Linked DNA regions of Homo sapiens: region 1 is linked to region 2. Evidence: fine-mapped expression QTL. Tissue or cell type: whole blood. Region 2 holds a variant in brackets; the other region holds the start of a gene. All regions are shown on one strand. Distances are from middle to middle.

Region 1 (7,891 bases), 84 kb after region 2:
CACCAGCAAAGGCAGGCTATGCTATAGTACAAGCCACTAGCCCACCTCTTAGAACCTCTCATTTCCTTTCCATCGTGGAAATCTATCCTCAAGGAAATAACTTCTCAGTGTTCCATCTGCTATTCTACTACTCCTCAGGGATTATTCAGGCCCCCTCCCTTCCCTACACATCAAGCTTGAGGATTTGCCCCCATCCAGGACTGGCAAATTAGCTTTACTCAACATGCCCTGAGTCAGATAACTAAAATACCTCTTAGTCTAGGTAGACAGTTTCACTGGATAGGTAGAGGCCTTTCCTACACAGTCTGAGCAGGCCACCGCAGTCATTTCTTCCCTTCTGTCAGACATAATTCCTCAGTTTAGCCTTCCCACCTCTATACAGTCTGATAACAGACAAGCCTTTATTACTCAAATCAGCCAAGCAGTTTTTCAGGCTCTTAGTATTCAGTGAAACCTTTATATCCCTTATGGTCCTCCATCTTCAAGAAAAGTAGAACTGACTAAAGGTCTTTTAAAAACACACCTCACCAAGCTCAGCCACCAACTTAAAAAGGACTGGACAACACTTTTACCACTTTCCCTTCTCAGAAGTCAGACCTGTCCTCAGAATGCTACAAGGTACAGCCCATTTGAGCTCCTGTAGAGATGCTCCTTTTTATTAGGCCCCGGTCTCATTCCAGACAGCAGACCAACTTAGACTGTGCCCCAAAAAAAACTTGTCATCCCTACTATCTTCTATCTAGTCATACTCCTATTCACCATTCTCAACTACTCATACATGCCCTCCTCTTGTTTACACAGCTGGTTTACACTGTTTCTGCAAGCCATCACAGCTGATATCTCCTGGCGCTATCCCCAAACTGCCACTCTAAACTCTTGAAGTAAATAAATAATCTTTGCTAGCAGGACTATGCTGAATCTCCTTAGGCACTCTCTAATTAGATGTCCTGGGTCCTCCCAATTCTTAGACCTTTTATACCTGTTTTTCTCCTTCTCTTATTCCATTTACTTTTTCAATTCATATAAAACCATATCCAGGCCATCACCAATAATTCTACATGATAAATGTTTCTTCTAATAACCCCACAATATCATCCCTTACCACAAAATCTTCCTTCAGCTTAATCTCTCCCATTCTAGGTTCCCACGCTGCCCCTAATCCCGCTCAAAGCAGCCCTGAAAAACATCACCCATTATCTCTCTATACCACCCCCAAAAATTTTCACCATCCCAACACTTTACCACTATTTCACTTTATTTTTCTTATTAATATAAGAAGACCAGAATGTCAGGCCTCTGAGCCCAAGCTAAGCTATCATATCCCCTGTGACCTGCACGTACACATCCAGATGGCTGGTTCCTGCCTTAACTGATGAGATTCCACCACAAAAGAAGTGAAAATGGCCTGTTCCTGCCTTAACTGATGACATTGTCTTGTGAAATTCCTTCTCCTGGCTCATCCTGGCTCAAAAGCTCCCCCACTGAGTACCTTGTGACCCCCACTCCTGCCCACCAGAGAACAACCCCCTTTGACTGTAATTTTCTTTTACCTACCCAAATCTTATAAAATGGCCCCACCCCTATCTCCCTTCACTGACTCTCATTTCAGACTCAGCCCACCTGCACCCAGGTGAAATAATGCTCACACAAAACCTGTTTGGTGGTCTCTTCACATGGATGCACATGAAACAAACTACACTATAAGGCCATAGTCACCAGAACAGCATGGTACTGCTATAAAAATAGGCACATAGACCAATGGAACAGAATAGAGAACCCAGAAATAAACTCAAATACTTACAGCCGACTAACCTTCAACAAAGCATACAAAAACATAAAGTGGGGAAAGAACACCCTATTCAACAAATAGCCCTGGGATAGTTGGCAAGCCACATGTAGGAGAATAATCCTGGATCCTCATCTTTCACGTTATAAAAATCAACTCAAGATGGATCAAGGACTTAAATCTATGACCTGAAAATATAAAAATTCTACAAGATAACATCAGAAAAACCCTTCTAGACATTGGCCTAGGCGAAGATTTCATGACCAAGAACCCAAAAGCAAATGCAACAAAAACAAAGATAAATAGGTGGGACTTAACTAAAGACCTTTTGCACAGCAAAAGGAAGAGTCAGCAAAGTAAACAGACAACCCACAGAGTGAGAGAAAATCTTCACAATCTATACATCCAACAAAGGACTAATATGCAGAATCTACAAGGAACTCAAACAAATTAGCACGAAAAAATAATCCCATCAAAAAGGGGGCTAACAGCCGGGCGTGGTGGCTCACTCCTGTAATCCCAGCACTTTGGGAGGCCGAGGCTGGTGGATCACCTGAAGTTGGGAGTTTGAGACCAGCCTGATCAACATGGAGAAACCCCATCTCTACTAAAAATACAAAATTAGCCCGGCATGGTGGCGCATGCCTGTAATCCCAACTACTCAGGAGGCTGAGGCAGGAGAATTGCTTGAACTCAGGAGGCAGAGGTTGCAGTGAGCCAAGATCACACCATTGCACTCCAACCTGGGCAACAAGAGTGAAACTCCATCTCAAAAAAAAAAAAAAAAAAAAGTGGGGGGTGCACTAAGGACATGAACAGACAATTCTCAAAACAAGATATACAAATGGCCAACAAACATGAAAAAATGCTCAACATCACTAATGATCAGGGAAATGCAAATCAAAACCACAAAACAATACCACCTTACTCCCACAAGAATGGCCATAATCAAAAATCAAAAAATAATAGATGTTGGCGTGGATGTGGTGAAAAGGGAATACTTCCACACTGCTTGTGGGAATGTAAACTAGTACAACCACTATGGAAAACAGTGTGGAGAATCCTTAAAGAACTAAAAGTAGAACTACCAAGAAATACCATTTCGTCCAGCAATCCCACTACTGGGTATCTACCCAGAGGAAAAGAAGTCATTATACGAAAAAGATACTTGTATATGCACGTTTATGGCAGCACAATTCACAACTGCAAAAATGTGGAAGCAGCCCAAATGCCCATCAATCAACGAGTGGATAAACAAACTGTAGCATATATATATTTATATATATATGTGTGTGTGTATATATGTGTGTATATATGTATATATCTATACATATATAGAGAGTAGTATTCCATCATACATATATATATGATGGAATACTACTCAGCCATAAAAAGGAGTGAATTAATGGCATTCACAGCAACCTGGATGGGATTGGAGACTATTATTCTCAGTGAAGTAACTCAGGAATGGAAAACCAAACATCGTATGTCCTCACTCGTGAGAGGTAGCTAAGCTATGAGGATGCAAATGCATAAGAAGGATACAATGGACTTTGGGGACTGGGACTCAGGGGGAAAGTGCAGGAAGGGCGTGAAGGATAAAAGACTACAAATTGGGTTCAAGGCATACCGCCCAGGTGACGGGTGCACCAAAATCTCACAAATCACCACTAAAGAACTTACTCATGTAACCAAACACCACCACCTATGGAAATAAAAATTTAAAAACCTATGGAAATAAAAAAATTAAAAATAAATAAAAAAATAAACATAAGTTCCAATTTCAGGCCATCTCTTTGTGAATGCATATGACTGTACACTTTCAGAAAAAGGTATGTCACATCTTGAATGCTTTGCTGCTTAGAAATTTCTTCTGCCAGATGCCCTAAATCATCTCTCTCAAGCTCAAAGTTCCACAGATCTCTAGGGTAGGGCCAAAATGTCACCAATCTCTTTGCTAAAGCATAGCAAGAGTGACCTTTACTCCAGCTTCCAATAAGTTCCTCATCTCCAACTGAGAGCACCTCAGCCTGAACTAAAAAAAAAAGGGGGGGGGGTTATCTAGACAGTGTTTCTTAAATTCCAATAGAGTTTGTCATGCATTTTTTATTATGTATTCCTGATTTTGATAGTTTAATCTGCCTGCAAAATGAACGTCAAAATATTTGTGAGGTTTTTTTTGGTTGTTGTTGTTTGTTTCTTTTTTTTGAGACAGGGTCTCACTCTCTCATCAGTGCAACATGTGATCCCGGCTCACTGCAGCCGCACATTCCCCGGCTCAAGCAATCCGCCCACCTCAGCCTCCTGAGTAGCTGGGACTACAGGCGCACACCATCACACCTGGCTAACTTTTGTATTTTTTGTAGAGATGGAGTCTCCCTATATTGCCCAGGCTGGTCTCAAACTCCTAGCCTCAAGCCATCCGCCCGCCTCGGCCTCCCAAGTGCTGGAATTACAGGCGTGGGCCACCGCACCCAGCCTTATTTGTATTCTTTATGTCCAAGTGTACAATTCATTTCCGTATTAGAAACGATCCATGCACAATCTCACGAAAACATGTTATCTACTGAAGGAATCTGAATTCTTCCATTTATCTATCTAATCACTTACTGATTGAATGATTCAGTTCTTCCAAAAAACGTATCCTTAGGTTTTTATCAAACTACCGTCTGTTCCGATTCTGGGGGCCTGTATATTAAAATCTCCCACTACACGAGTATATCTCATTATCTCTGCATTTCTATTAGTGTCCCCTTTTCTTCAGTTGCCGCCTTGTTCAGTGCACGGGTCAACTCTGAAAAAAAGGGGAACAGAAGGGTCTCTGGCCTCAGGGCTAGTGGGACCAGGTCTGGGGCTGAACCACAGAGTCGCCCCGGCCTCCCGCCATCTAGAGAGGCTACGCTGCCCCAGATAGAACGAGCGGCGGGCCGGAATTCGGGGCGGGACTTCCGGGGGTCAGCCGGCGTTGGCTGAGACGTCTTCGTGCCACGGTGCTGCCTCCTTTCCAAGCGCGACCCGTTGAGGTTAGTTCCGCGAAGCTCCACGCCTGGGACCCTGCGTCTGGTTGTCCCTGATGCCCCCGTGGTTGGGGGGCCCAGGGGCCTCTCAGGGCTCAGACGGGGCGGGCAGCGAGCTGGGGACCCCGGGCGGGGGCGGAGCCGCGCGGGGGGTTGTGGGAGCGCGGGGGGGGCGGGGCGGGGGCAGCTCGGCCTGGGCTGGAGGTCAGAGCCTCTGGGGGCTGCCTCCGGTAGGGGGTCTCCGGGGAGACCCCGGGGTAAGGTCGCCGCGAGGGGCCGAGCCAGGACTCCGCCCACAGGCTGGTGGCGTTCCCGCCTGTCGGTGCCACCATTCGAGCTCGGGCGGAGCGACGGGGTGAAGGGGTGGCCTGCCCTTCCACACCTGTGGGATATCTCATCAGGTGGGACGAGAGACTGAGAAAAGAAATAAGACAAAGTGTAGAGAAACAACAGTGGGCCCAGGAGACCGGCACTCGGCACACTAAGGACCTGCACCGGCACCGGTCTCTGAGTTCTCTTAGTTTTTATTGATTATTATTTTCATTATCTCAGCAAGAGGAATGCAGTAGGAGAGCAGGGTGATAATAGGGAGAAGGTCAGCAAAAAAAAGCATGTGAGCAAAAGAATCTGTGCCATAATTAAGTTTAAGGGGAGGTACTATGCCTGGATGGGCACGTAGGCCAGATTTGTTTCTCTCCACCCAAACATCTCAGTGGAGTAAAGAATAACAAGGCAGCATTGCTGCCAACATGTCTCACCTCTCACCATAGGGCAGTTTTTCTCCTGTCTCAGAATTGAACAAATGTACAATCGGGTTTTATACCGAGACATTCAGTTCCCAGGGGCAGGCAGGAGAGAGTGGCCTTCCTCTATCTCAACTGCAAGAGGCTTTTCTCTTTTACCAATCCACCTCAACACAGACCCTTTACGGGCGTTGGGCTGGGGGACGGTCAGGTCTTTCTCATCCCATGAGGCCATATTTCAGACTATCACATGGGGACAAATCTTGGACAATACCCGGCTTTCCAAGGCAGAAGTCCCTGTGGCTTATCGCAGAGCATTGTGCCCCTGGTTTATTGAGACTGGAGAATGGCGATGACTTTTACCAAGCATCTGCTTGTAAACATTTTGTTAACAAGGCACATCCTGCACAGCCCTAGATCCCTTAAACCTTGATTCCATACAACACATGTTTTTGTGAGCTCAAAGTTGTGGCAAAGTGGCTGGGGCAAAGTTACAAATTAACAGCATCTCAGCAAAGCAATTGTTCAAGGTACAGGTCAAAATGGAATTTCTTATGTCTTCCTTTTCTACACAGACACAGTAACAGTCTGATCTTTCTTTCTTTTCCCTACATGGGGCAGCAGTGCGATGGGGTGGTTCCCAGCGCATGGGAGACAAGGGTGGGTTCGTGGTTCCTGGTGTTCCATGAGAAGTCAGAGATGCACTGAGCAGAGCTGGGGGAGAAAGGGGGTTTCGCTCAGCCTCAGATGTCCTGCCTGGGAGGCCCAGTCAGTAGTGGAGTCGCTCTGCGTGTGGAGGAGGTACTCTGGGAAGGGAGGAGAGTTTGGGCCAGTTCTTCCCCAAGGGGGAAGGTGCTGAGGGATCGGCCAGGGCCCATCCTGTGGCTGCTTGCTATGGGAGGGTGGTGGCTGGCTCTTCCAGTTGTGTGACTCCTAAAGAGCAGGCTTAGCCTCTAGCCAGGAGACTCCACTTCCAAGCTTGTTCAGGCTGTTGGCCGAATCTGTTTTTCTTGAGGTTGGTCCTCAGAAGTGCTGGCTGCCAGCCTGAGTGATCCTTAGCTCTCCGAGGTCCTTCCATGTGGCCCTCAGATCTTTCTCAGGCTTTTAAGGGCTCATTTGATTAGATTGGGTCCACCAGGGTAATTCACGTCCATAACCTTAATTCCCTTTGCAAAGTCCTTTTTGGTATGTAGTGTAACATAAGCACAAGTTCCAGGGATTAGGATATGGACCTGGGTGAGAGGGGGCATTTATTCTGTGTCCTGGTAAGCAAGATCCCACACATAATGAAGTGAGAAAAATAAGGTGTGAAGCCATAGCATAGTTGGGTGTAATTTATCATTAAAAGGCAAACATATGTTTATATATTTGCTGTGTAAACCTAGATTAATCTGGAACGGTACACTAGAAACAAGGGAAACTGTGTGGATGTTTGGGGAATTTTTCACCATAAATCCTTTTTACCTTTTAAATTTTGAGGTGACTATGCCCCTATTCAGAAACAATGAGAATTTAAAGTATTTTTAAATAAAATGAACTAAATAAATATTGCAGATTATTACATCACCACTTGGATGGGGAGAGGTTTCCCTCGAGGAAACTGGGCATCTGCACTGTAAGGGCAGGCAGATGCAGTCACAGAGGGCCTTGTCACCCCCATCGCCCATGTCTCCTCCATTTCTGCTGCCACGTGGTAGGCACCTTAGTGCTGTACCTGCTTTGAATCTCATCTCCCACCATTCCTCTGAGCACCCTGCCAAGTTAATCTTGAGATATTAGTTTTGTCTCTCCTGACACAGAAATGTGGCCAGTGTTTCACCTTCATCTGGCAGCCAAGGCCCCTTATCATTGGTCCATAGTAACCATCCCTGTGAGCTCTGTTCATATCTCCTTGCCTTCTCCTTGATGGTGATCTGAGTCCAGGAGCACCACCCAGCCCTTCTTTCTTCCCCACATGGCCTATGGGTGACACGTACCATCACGTTGACTCCCTGCACCATCCTTCTGCCACCTTTCTTCACATCCCCTTTGCAGATCCCCTTGACCACACCCTCATTCTCAGCTGGTGCTCATGAAGGACAGAAGAGTCAATGTCAGTACAATGTGAGTGAAGGGCTGAGGTATGTCAGTGCTCCCAGTGGGCACCCGGGCAGGGTATGGTGCATTTACACAGTGAGGGGTGGGGGAATCAGTAACATGTGAGGAGCCCGTCATGCCGCCACGTGGGAGTGTCCTCTCTCCTGCTCACAGGGAGTAGTTAGGACTGGAGATGAGCCCAAGTTTGTGAATCTTAACAAGGGTGTTGATGCCTCAAGACTGGACATAATCACCAAGGAAGTTGGTGG
Region 2 (10,897 bases):
TTTTTTTAGACAAAATCTTGCTGTTTTGCCAAGGCTGGAGTGCAGAGGCATGATCTCAGCTCACTGCAACTTGTGCCTCCTGGGTTCAAGCAATTGTTGTGTCTCAGTCTCCTGAGTAGCTGAGATTACAGGCATGCGCCACCATGCCTGGCTAATTTTTATTTTTAGTAGAGACAGGGTTTTGTCATTTTGGCCAGGCTGGTCTCCAACTCCTGGCCTCGAGTGATCCACCCACCTCAGCCTCCAAAAGTGCTGGGATGCAGATGTGAGCCACTGCACCCGACCTGGGAGGGTCAATTTCTTTGTTTATCCAAAAAAAAGTAAACATCAGTTCTATGGACAGTTGGGTCAATTTTACTATGATTGCCACTGCACTCCAGCCTGGGTGACAGAGCAAGGCTCTGTCTAAAAAAAAAATCCTCATAATAATTTCAGACGAAACTGACTTCATAGAAAGAAAAAAAATTATCAGGGATAAAGAAGGGAGTTACATGATCATAAAGGGATCAGTTTTCCAACAGGACATAGAAATCCTTAAGCTGTTTGCACCTAACAACAGAGGGTCAAAAAATGTGAAGGAAAAACTGATAGAACTTCAAGGAGAAATAAATGAGTCCACTATTATAGCTGGAGAATTCAACACCCTCTATCAGTAAATGACAGATTCAGCAGGCAGAAAAACAGTAAGAACATGGTTAAACTGAACAGAACCATCAATCAATTAGCTCTAACCAGCAGCTATAGAATACTTTATCCAATAATAGCACAATATACATTATTCTCAAACACACAGAACAATCACCAAGAGAGACCACATTCTGAGCCATAAAACACACCTTTATCAATTTAAAAGAATAGGGCCAGGCATGGTGGCTCACACCTGTAATCTCAGCAGTTTAGGAGGCCAAGGCAGGCAGATTGCTTGAGCCCAGGAATTCAAGACCAGCATGGGCAACATGGTGAAACCCAATCTCTACAAAAAATACAAAAATTAGCCAGGTGTGGTGGCATATGCCTTTAGTTCCAGTTACTCAGGAGACTGAGATGGGAGGATCACTTGAACGCAGGAGGCAGAGGTTTTAGTGAGCTGTGGTCACACCACTAGAGTCCAGCCTGGGGGACAGAGTGAGACCCTGCCTGAAAAAAATACATAAAGTATATGATCATACAATCTGTGGTCTCAGATGGCAAAGAAGTTAACCTGGAAATCAATGGCAGAAAGATCACTGGAAAACTCCAAAATACTTGGAGATTAAACAACACACTTCTGAATAACAGCTGGGTCAAAGAAGAATTCTCAAGTTAAATTTAGAAATATTTCAAACTAAATGAAAATGAAAATACAACTTATTTATCTCACAAAGTTGTGAGATGTGAAAGCAGTACTTAGAGATAAATTTATAGCATGGAATTCTCATATTAGAAGAAAGATACAATCAATAATGTAAGCTTCCACCTTATGAAACTAGGGAAAAAAGAATAAATCAAATCAAAGTAAGCAGAATAAATTGTTTCACCACTCACTGGGTGACCAGGTTGTGCAGCCAAGTTTATAAGATAGATAAGTGCCACTGAGGGAAGGCCTATGCATGATTTTGGGTCATTAAAACAAGTGGCACACACACCAGGCTCAAGTGGTATGTCATTTTCTTACAACAAGAGGAGAAAGAATGCACAGGATCCAGCCCTTTGCAATGCACAGTTCCCCCATTGACAGCAGTTTCACATCACAGCTGCGTTAGGCCATTCTTGCATTGCTATAAAGAAATGCCTACAACCAGGTCATTTATAAAAACAGAGGTTTAATTAGCTCATAGTTCTACATCTGCTCAGCTTCTGGGGAGGCCTCAGGAAGCTTGCAATCATGGCAGAAGGCAAGTGGGGAGCAGGCACATCACATGGAAAAATCAGGAGCAAGTAAAAGAGAGGAAAGTGCCACAGACTTTTAAACAGCCAGGTCTCAAGAGAACTCACTTACTATGGCGAGGATAGCATGGAGAGAATGATGCTAAACCATTCATGAGAAATCAACCCTCATGATCCAATCACCTTCCACCAGGCCCCATCTTCAATGCTGTGGATTACAATTCAACATGAGATTTGGGCAGGGACAAATATATGAACTATATCGACAGCCAATGTGGGCAGTGTAGCTGCACACCCCACACCCCACTTCCTGCTGCAGTAGAAGAACCCCAACTCCTCTCCCATCGGGTCTGAAACACAGAAAGCTATGGGTGTGCCTGAGATCCATCAATGCATGCACTCAAGCAGAACAGAGGACTACATATGAGTCTATAACAGGGAATAATGTCCCTGTACAAAGTAGTAAGCCCAGCACATGCTGTGAGGGCTCTTTATCTCTCTCATAAGGAAGTGTTCTGGACCCAAGGCCCATTCTTATATGATTGGGTGGAGGCTGAAAAACTACATGCACAAGACTGCCTTTCCCAACATCAATAATAAAAATTTGAGCAGAAATCAATGACATTGAAAATGGGAAACCAGCAGAGAAAATCCATGAAACCAGAAATTGACTTTTTGAAAGATCAATTCCTTTAGGTTGCCCACAGATAGACGTTACCTGCAGCCAATATACATGCTTGTGCTAGCAGAGGGATGCAAGACCAGGTACTCCTGGCTACAGCATAGTCTACCAATTAGCTTGCTAAAAAAAAACAAAAACAAAAACAAAACCCTAAGTTTTATCTGCATTTCTTGGCAGAGCACATGTGGAACCTGAATGGGACCATAATGGGTGTCACAAATGAGTAGCTGATGAAATGATGACATAACACAGAGCCCAGAAGTGGCCTGATCACACCTTATGACTTGATCTTCCTATCTCTTTTTATCTAAAGGAATACTCTTGTTGATTGCATTATACATTCCATTTGTTCCATCTTTAGCATGTCCTACAGGATACTAACTTCCTATCTACATGTAACATATCTTACTAGTCCTGCCTATAGCTCACACACTAGTTGCTTGCTCATATCTAGAGTTTTATCAATACTTCAAAAGCTACTACCTTACTAACATTTTTTATAAGTTTCATCCATCCTATTAATTTTTTCCTCTTCTATAGGCATTCACGTTACAAACAACCATTTATTTGCTCACAATTCTAAAATTTAGACTGGGCTCAGCTAGACAGTTCTTATCAACTCTCTGCTTGTGACATTTGCTTATTTCACACTGACTAAAGTCCACGGTTGGTGTGAGAAGGGCATGTATACCAGGAGGCACACTCCATTGTGGCCATTACTGTGACAATCCACAAGAGCAGCTCGGTGCTCCTTGGTGCATAAATATTCATAACTGCTAAATTTGCATTGGGAATCATAGCCTTTATCATTGTAAATTTCTTTGTATTACTTGATGCATTTTAACCTGAATTCCACCTTGTCTGATATTAAGATTACCATCTTAATGTCATGCTTTCTTCTTGTTTAGATTTCCCTGGTATACTTTGCTTATTCTTTTATTTTTAGCCTTTCAGAATCACTGTATTTTAAGAGTTGGACTTTGTTTTGTGATCCAATTTGAAACTTTATATGTATATATATATATATATACTTTTTAAATTTTTTATTTCCATAGGTTTTTAGGGAACAGGTGGTATTTTGTTACATAAGTTCTTTACTGGTGATTTGTGAGATTTTCGTGCACCCATCACCCAAGCAGTACACACTGAACCCAATTTGTAGTCTTTTATCCCTCACCCTCTTCCCACCCTTTCACTGTGAGTCAGCAAAGTCCATCATATCATTCTTATGCCTTTGCATCCTCATAGCTTAGCTCCACTTATGAGTGAGAACATACACTGTTTGGTTTTCCATTCCTAAGTTACTTCACTTAGAATAATAGTTTCCAGTCCCATCCAGGTTGCTGTGAATGCCATTAATTCATTCCAATTTGAAAAGATATATTTTTTATTTTTATTTATTTATTTATTTATTTTTGAGACAGAGTCTTGCTCTATCACCCAGCTTGGAGTACAGTGGCTTGATCACGGCTCACACAACCTCCACCTCCTGGGTTCAAGCCAGTCTCCTGTCTCAGCCTCCCAAGTATCTGGGATGACAGGCACATGCCACCATGGCTGGCTAATTTTCATATTTTGAGTAGAGACAGGGTTTCACCATATTGGTCAGGCTGGTCTTGAACTCCTGACCTTGTGATCCACCCGTCTCAGCCTCCCAAGTGCTGGGATTACAGACGTGAGCCACCACACCCAGCTCAAATCTATATACTTTCTAAAAGAGGTGAGTTAATCCCATTTGTTAAGATAGTTGTTCTTGTTTTAATTGTCATATTATATTTTGATTATATATTTGTGTTAATCTGTTACACTTTGTTATGAAGGAACACCTGAAGCTGGGTAATTTACAAAGAAAAGAGGTTTATTTGGCTCATGGTTCTTCAGGTTACACAGGAAGTATAGTGCTGGCATTTGCTCAGCTTCTGGTGAGGCCTCAGGAAGCTTTTACTCATGGAAGAAGGCTAAGAGGAAACAGGCATGTCACATGGCAAGAAAGGGAGCAAGAGAGAGGAGCCAGCCTCTTTTAAACAACCAGCTCTCTATGAAGTAACAAAGTGAGAACTCATTCATTACCTCCAGGAAGGCATCAAGCCATTCATGAGGGATCCATCCCCAAACACCTTCCACTAGGTCCCACCTCCAACTTTGGGGATCACATTTCAACATGAAATTCAGAGGGGACACACATCCAAACCATAGCAATATTAACTCTTTCTTTCCCTTTCAATCCTTTTTATTGTTGTTTCCAATATTTAGCAAGATTTTAATTTCTGTTCCAGTTGTCACCTTTATAGTTTTATATGGCACTCTGAGTCCTCTCATTAGGTAGCATTTTGAAGGTAATAGCCAGGAGTGGGCGCAAAGGAGGCTTTGGGTGCTAATCTGCTCTGCATTTTTATGTGGATAGTGGTTACTTTCTTGTTCACATACTCAAAATTGAGTTGTACATATTTATGATTTAAGTACTTTTCTGAATGCATATTTCAATATGTATAATTGAAGAGTGCTGAATTACACTTTGGGAGGCTGAGGCAGGTGGATCACCTGAGGTCAGGAGTTCAAGACCAGCCTGACCAATATGGTGAAACCCCATCTCTACTAAAATTACAAAAATT[A/T]GCCAGGCATGGTGGCATGTGCCTGCAGTACCAGCCACTTGGGAGTCTGAGGCAGGAGAATCGCTTCAGCCTGGGAGGTGGAGGTTGCAGTGAGCCAAGATCACACCACTGCACTCCAGCCTGGGCAACAGAGTGAGACTCCATCTCAAAAAAAAAATGCTGAATTATATGGAACCAAGCAGAAGAAGCAAAGAGGACAGGACTAGGCTGCCTGGAGTATGCTGCCATTAGCCCATAGGTTGCCACTGCTGGCTGGGGTGGCCAGCTTTTTTTCCCTTGTTTGTGCCTGCCCATGTCCTGCTGATTGGTCCATTTTACAGAGTGCTGATTGGTCCATTTTACAGAGTGCTAATTGGTCTATTTTACAAATCTCTAGCTAGCTACAGAGTGCTGATTGGTGCATTTTTACAAAGCACTGATTGGTGCATTTTACAAACCTCTTGTAAAACAGAAAAGTTCTCCAAGTCCCCACTCAAACCAGGAAGTCAAGCTGGCTTCACCTCTCAATCCCCCCTTTAAACGGGACACCCCACTGCTGTTGGGAATTGGCCAATGACCACTCTAGCTACTTCCTGCTGGATAGGGGTGAAGACGGGGCCCTCCAGTGGTAGTGTCCTCAGAAGGGAACTCTCTAGGCCAGCCAAAGAGCCAGTGGGTCAATCCAGGGGTCCTCGGTAGAAGTTTTGAGTTGAACTCATTTGGGGTTCCATTTGTAAGTCCATCTGTAGCTTGATGGCCTCAATCCTGAAGGAAACAAATTTGGCAAGGAGGTTAAAAATACAGGGCCCAAAAGTGAATAATAGCAAGATGGCTTTCACAGGACCTAGAAAGGGGAGAAGCCATGTCACCCAACTCCAGAGGTTGGTATAAGAGTTTGAGAGGCATTATCTGATTTCAGAAGCCTTTTCCTGTAAACACCAGATGGCATCTCATACTATCCCTGACTGGTTAGTGTAAAAGCAACACTCTTCCCCTAAGAAGGTGCAAAGTCCTCCTTTCTCAGCAGTGAGGAGGCCTAGGCCTCAGCAGTTTTGGACAGTCACTGCTGCCAAAGAGTTTATTTGGGATTATAGAGTAAGGATAGATTTTGTTATTTATTGCGAACTGAGAAATCCTTTGAGAGTGTGTGGTAGTAGGATAATGAAGTTGATAAACCTGCTATTCTGGTTCCAGTAGCAGTGGCCATTTCTAACCCTATAAGTAGGGGTAGTAGTTGTATGGCCCTGCACTGATGGACTTGAGCTTTGAGGGGCACTGATGTGGTCTGATTTCCACAAGATAAGAAGTTAGAATAATAAATATTACACTGTTAACTTTTAGCAAACTACTTTTGTTGAAAACCTTGGAAGTTTGGGATTTCAATTATTCTTTGCTATTAATAAGACCTCGTTCAGTCCATGTTAACTTAGAATTGGTATAGATCCTCTTTCCTGATTCTGTAAGTACTTTAAGGTTTAGCTGAGTGCAAACAACTCACACATTTGAGCAGACCAATTATTAGGCAATTTTCCTAACTCTGCTTCTACAAGAGTTTCCTTATCACTTACTGAATACCCATTGTGTCTTTTTCCCTTAATCGCCTGGAAGGAACCATCTATTATCCTGTCCTGAAGGGAGTTCCTCTTAGGTATGTTCAGACCTTTGTATGGTAATTAATTTAGATCCCCTGTTAGGAAACCTGCTGGGTTAAGGATTTTTGATAGGAATGCTATGGGTTGTCAGTGGCCTCAGTGCTTTCGGGCTATACCCTTGTTTACACTGACAACAAGGTGGTATTGGAGAAGACTTTTTTTTTCTGTATATATATATTTTTTATTATACTTTAAGTTTTAGGGTACATCTGCACAATGTGCAGGTTAGTTACATATGTATACATGTGCCATGCTGGTGTGCTGCACCCATTAACTCATCATTTAGCATTAGGTATATCTCCTAATGCTATCCCTCCCCCCTCCCCCCACCCCACAACAGTCCCCAGAGTGTGGTGTTCCCCTTCCTGTGTCCATGTGTTCTCATTGTTCAATTCCCATCTATGAGTGAGAACATGCGGTGTTTGGTATTTTGTCCTTGCGACAGTTTACTGAGAATGATGATTTCCAATTTCATCCATGTCCCTACAAAGGACGTGAACTCATCATTTTTATGGCTGCATAGTATTCCATGGTGTATATGTGCCACATTTTCTTAATCCAGTCTATCATTGTTGGACATTTGGGTTGGTTCCAAGTCTTTGCTATTGTGAATAATGCCGAAATAAACATACGTGTGCATGTGTCTTTATAGCAGCATGATTTATAGTCCTTTGGGTATACACCCAGTAATGGGATGGCAGGGTCAAATGGTATTTCTAGTTCTAGATCCCTGAGGAATCACCACACTGACTTCCACAATGGTTGAACTAGTTTACAGTCCCACCAACAGTGTTAAAGTGTTCCTATTTCTCCACATCCTCTCCAGCACCTGTTGTTTCCTGACTTTGTAATGATTGCCATTCTAACTGGTGTGAGATGGTATCTCATTGTGGTTTTAAATCAATTATCAATTATAGGTTTTAAATTTGCCCTGGCTTTTAAAGGAATAGGGTACACTGTTTTTTCTTTAATACTTCTCTCTCTCTTTCTTTGACTTTCTGTCTCTCTGTTTCTCTCTTTGACTTTGTCTCTTTCTCTCTTTCTCTGACTCCCTCTTTGTCTGTCTCTTCCTCTCCTTCTCTTTGACTTTCTGTCTCTCTTTCTTTCTCTCTGACTTCCTCTTTGTCTCTTCCTCTCTCTCTTTCCTTCTCTCTTTTTCTGTCTTTCCCTCTCTCTATCCCTCTCTCTTTCCTTCTCTCTTTGACTTTCTGTCTTTCCTCTCTCTCCCTCTCTCTCTCTTTCCTTCTCTTTGTCCTTCTCTTTGTCAAGTGCCCTGCCAGCCACTTATGCTGCTGTTCTCTGCTCTCCTTCCTCTTTTTGATGGCTTTGCAGTGTAAGACTGCCACCTCCTTGGGTTTTTGCACTGCGTGCAATAACTCCAAGATTTCCTTGTGGTATTTAATGGGGGTTCCCCCAGAGGTTAGGAACTCCCTTTTTTTCCATATTGCAGCATGGGCATGTAGGATTACATAAGCATGATTGCTATCTGTATACACATTTATTCTTTTTCCCTTTCCCAGTCCTAAGGCTTGGGTAAGTGCCACTAGTTCTGTTAACTGGGCACTGGTCCCTGGGGGAAGAGGCTTACTTTCAAGTACCGTTACATCACTAACTATGGCATAACCTGCCCTTCATATCCAATTCTCCACAAATGAACTTCCATTGGTATATAGGTTAGGGTCAGGATTAACTAAGGGGACTTCTAAGAGATCCTCTCAGTGGCATAAGTCTGGACTATAATTTGTTGGCAGTAGTGCTCAACTGGTCCTCCATCCTCTGGGAGAAAGGTGACAGGGTTTAGGGCTGCACATGTGCATATTTGAAGCACCAGTCCCTCAAGGTGTAGCAGCTGGTATCTAAGCAGGCAGTTGTCTGATAGCCATAAACTACCTTTGGCACCTATTATGCCATTTACATCATGAGTAGTCCAGATGGTGAGATCCTTTCCTTGTATTATTTTCATAGCCTCTGATACTGAGATTGCCACTGCCACAACTACCCATAAACAGTGAGGCCAGCCTTTTTTCCACTGTTGGGGAAACCAGCCCCACAACACCCAGTGGGTACCCCAAATCCAGCAGAGACAAAGGAGTTGGAAAGAGACAGAATAAGCATTTAAAAGGCAGGTCCAGGGGACAAGAGTGTTGGAGGCTTGCTCATGGCCCAGAGCTCTCAGGCTCTGCCCAATTTATTGGTCTACAAGCTCTTTGTTCTTAAGGCAGATGGGAGGGGGAGGAAGGGGTGGGAAAAAGGATTAATCAGTGAAGGAGAACTCGTGAGTCATTCGATAAGATGTATAGCAGTGGCGGTTTCTGTGAATTTCCTTGAGCAGAGGTGTATGTCTAAACTACTTAAGATCTTGCGGGTTTCAGGAGGAGCCAAGATGTTTGATTATACTCCACTGCTTCAAGGGAGTGTTATCTCCCTGAGCAACCTGTGGAATGCTGCTGAGCAGTTATGCTCTCAGGGCATAAAGACATGAAGGCAATAAGGAGACTTTTCCCCCCAGAGGCTGCCCATGGCTTCCCATGGGTGTCTCACACAGGGGAGACCAACTCAACTGGCACCCTAGAAACTCTCTTTCCCACATGTCCCCCTTTTTTGTCTTTATTAATTTTTTTTGATTAATAACTGCCATTGCTATCATGGCTCATTCACGGTGTCTGGCTTCTCTCCCAAGGCATCATCCACATCTGTAGACTAAAAACAAACAGCATAAACAGACACAAACCAAAATAAAATTTGCAATTGTTGATCCACCTATGGTTTTAATCCACTTTAAAGGATTGGTATTAGAAAGGCCATCAGCAGCTCCAGCAAGAATATCATCTCCAGGCAACAGGGTGAGATGAACCTTAGATGTCTCAAAAACATGTTTTTCCAGTTTAGCAATATCTAATGATAAATTATCTTCTTTTCCTTGTAGGTGACATCTAATCATCTCCCAATGGTGTTCACTGGCATTGTAAGAGCTAGGAGTAATACAAAAATCAGAAGTATTCCAATCACGTTGCATTTGAATTCTATGCTCCAAGCTCATAATCCAATCTCCCATCCACATTACTGTTTGATGGAGATCATTAATTTGATTTGCCAATTTTTGATCTATTTGGCTTTGGGGATTCCAAAGCTTAGAAGAATTTTTCTGCCAACTATCCACAAAGCCCACAGTTTGAATAGAAGTGTGCAAAGCAACACCAGCAACAGCAGCAGCAGCTGTGACAGCTATAAGGCCCATGATCACAGCTATTAAAGTAAATATGCATCTCTTTTATCTATTAAGTATTCCTTTTAGTAATTCAGTGATAATATGTATGGAGGGAGAGGACTCCCAAGGTCTATTGAGGGAAATAGGTATCCAAACTCCTTCTCAGGCCCTAACCAGTAAAATGTTATTATCTTTATTAAAGGTAGAATTAATGCAGGTAAAAAGATGACAGTTGAGGAATGATATGGTTTGAGAGTCAGGTAGGATATTAATTTTTCCCACTGCCAACATAAGAGGAGGTTTAACACAACTCTGCAATGGGACCATCTGATTAGAAGTCATGGCTACAACAAATTGAAGTTTTTACTATGGGTCTCTGTTTTATATTCTCCTTTCCAAATCCGAATTGGGTTTGAGCCATCATTAATTTCCACAATTCTGGATGTTCTGGACTTATAATTGGATCAATTATTTTGGGGCTTGAAGGAGCCATACCATTCCCCTCCCACTTAATAGGGAAATGTGCTTCCATTCTTCTATATAATTTTGGTGCATAATCTGGGTGGTCGTTTGCAAAAGGAGTCTCTCTACAATCTTCACGCTGTCCAGTACAATTTACTGCAAAGCCTCTCCTAGGGGCCAAATCAATGATGATTCCATAGGAATTATTTTGCAGTACAGCATCGCTGTTTGCAATACAATCTTCCCAGGTTAGCACCTCTAGCTTTCCAGACCATTTAGTGGCCTGCCTAGGGCAGGGCTTCTTATTAGGTTTAAATTTATTAATCTGGTGATGTGTCATAACATAGCCGTGCACAAGGTATTTAATAGTGTCCAAAGATTGAAATGTTCTTCCACTGATTACATGAATACAGGCTTTTGATCCACTATGTGCAGG

The links. PIP is the estimated chance that this variant, and not a neighbour inherited with it, causes the effect.
Region 1: ZNF16 starts here. The variant in region 2 is fine-mapped to the expression of ZNF16 in whole blood (INTERVAL, PIP above 0.99).

The regions. Positions count from the first base shown.
Region 1 is chr8:144,947,715-144,955,605 of GRCh38, reverse strand. It overlaps ZNF16 (zinc finger protein 16), which reads left to right and starts at 4,726. Exons shown (of 3, transcript NM_006958.3): 1 at 4,726-4,809. RefSeq lists an enhancer at 4,597-4,666 and a silencer at 4,907-5,216.
Region 2 is chr8:145,030,644-145,041,540 of GRCh38, reverse strand. It overlaps the pseudogene LOC124902043. Among named protein-coding and RNA genes, the nearest start is that of C8orf33, 16 kb to the left of the region's middle. The variant A/T (reference allele first, on the strand shown) is at 5,161.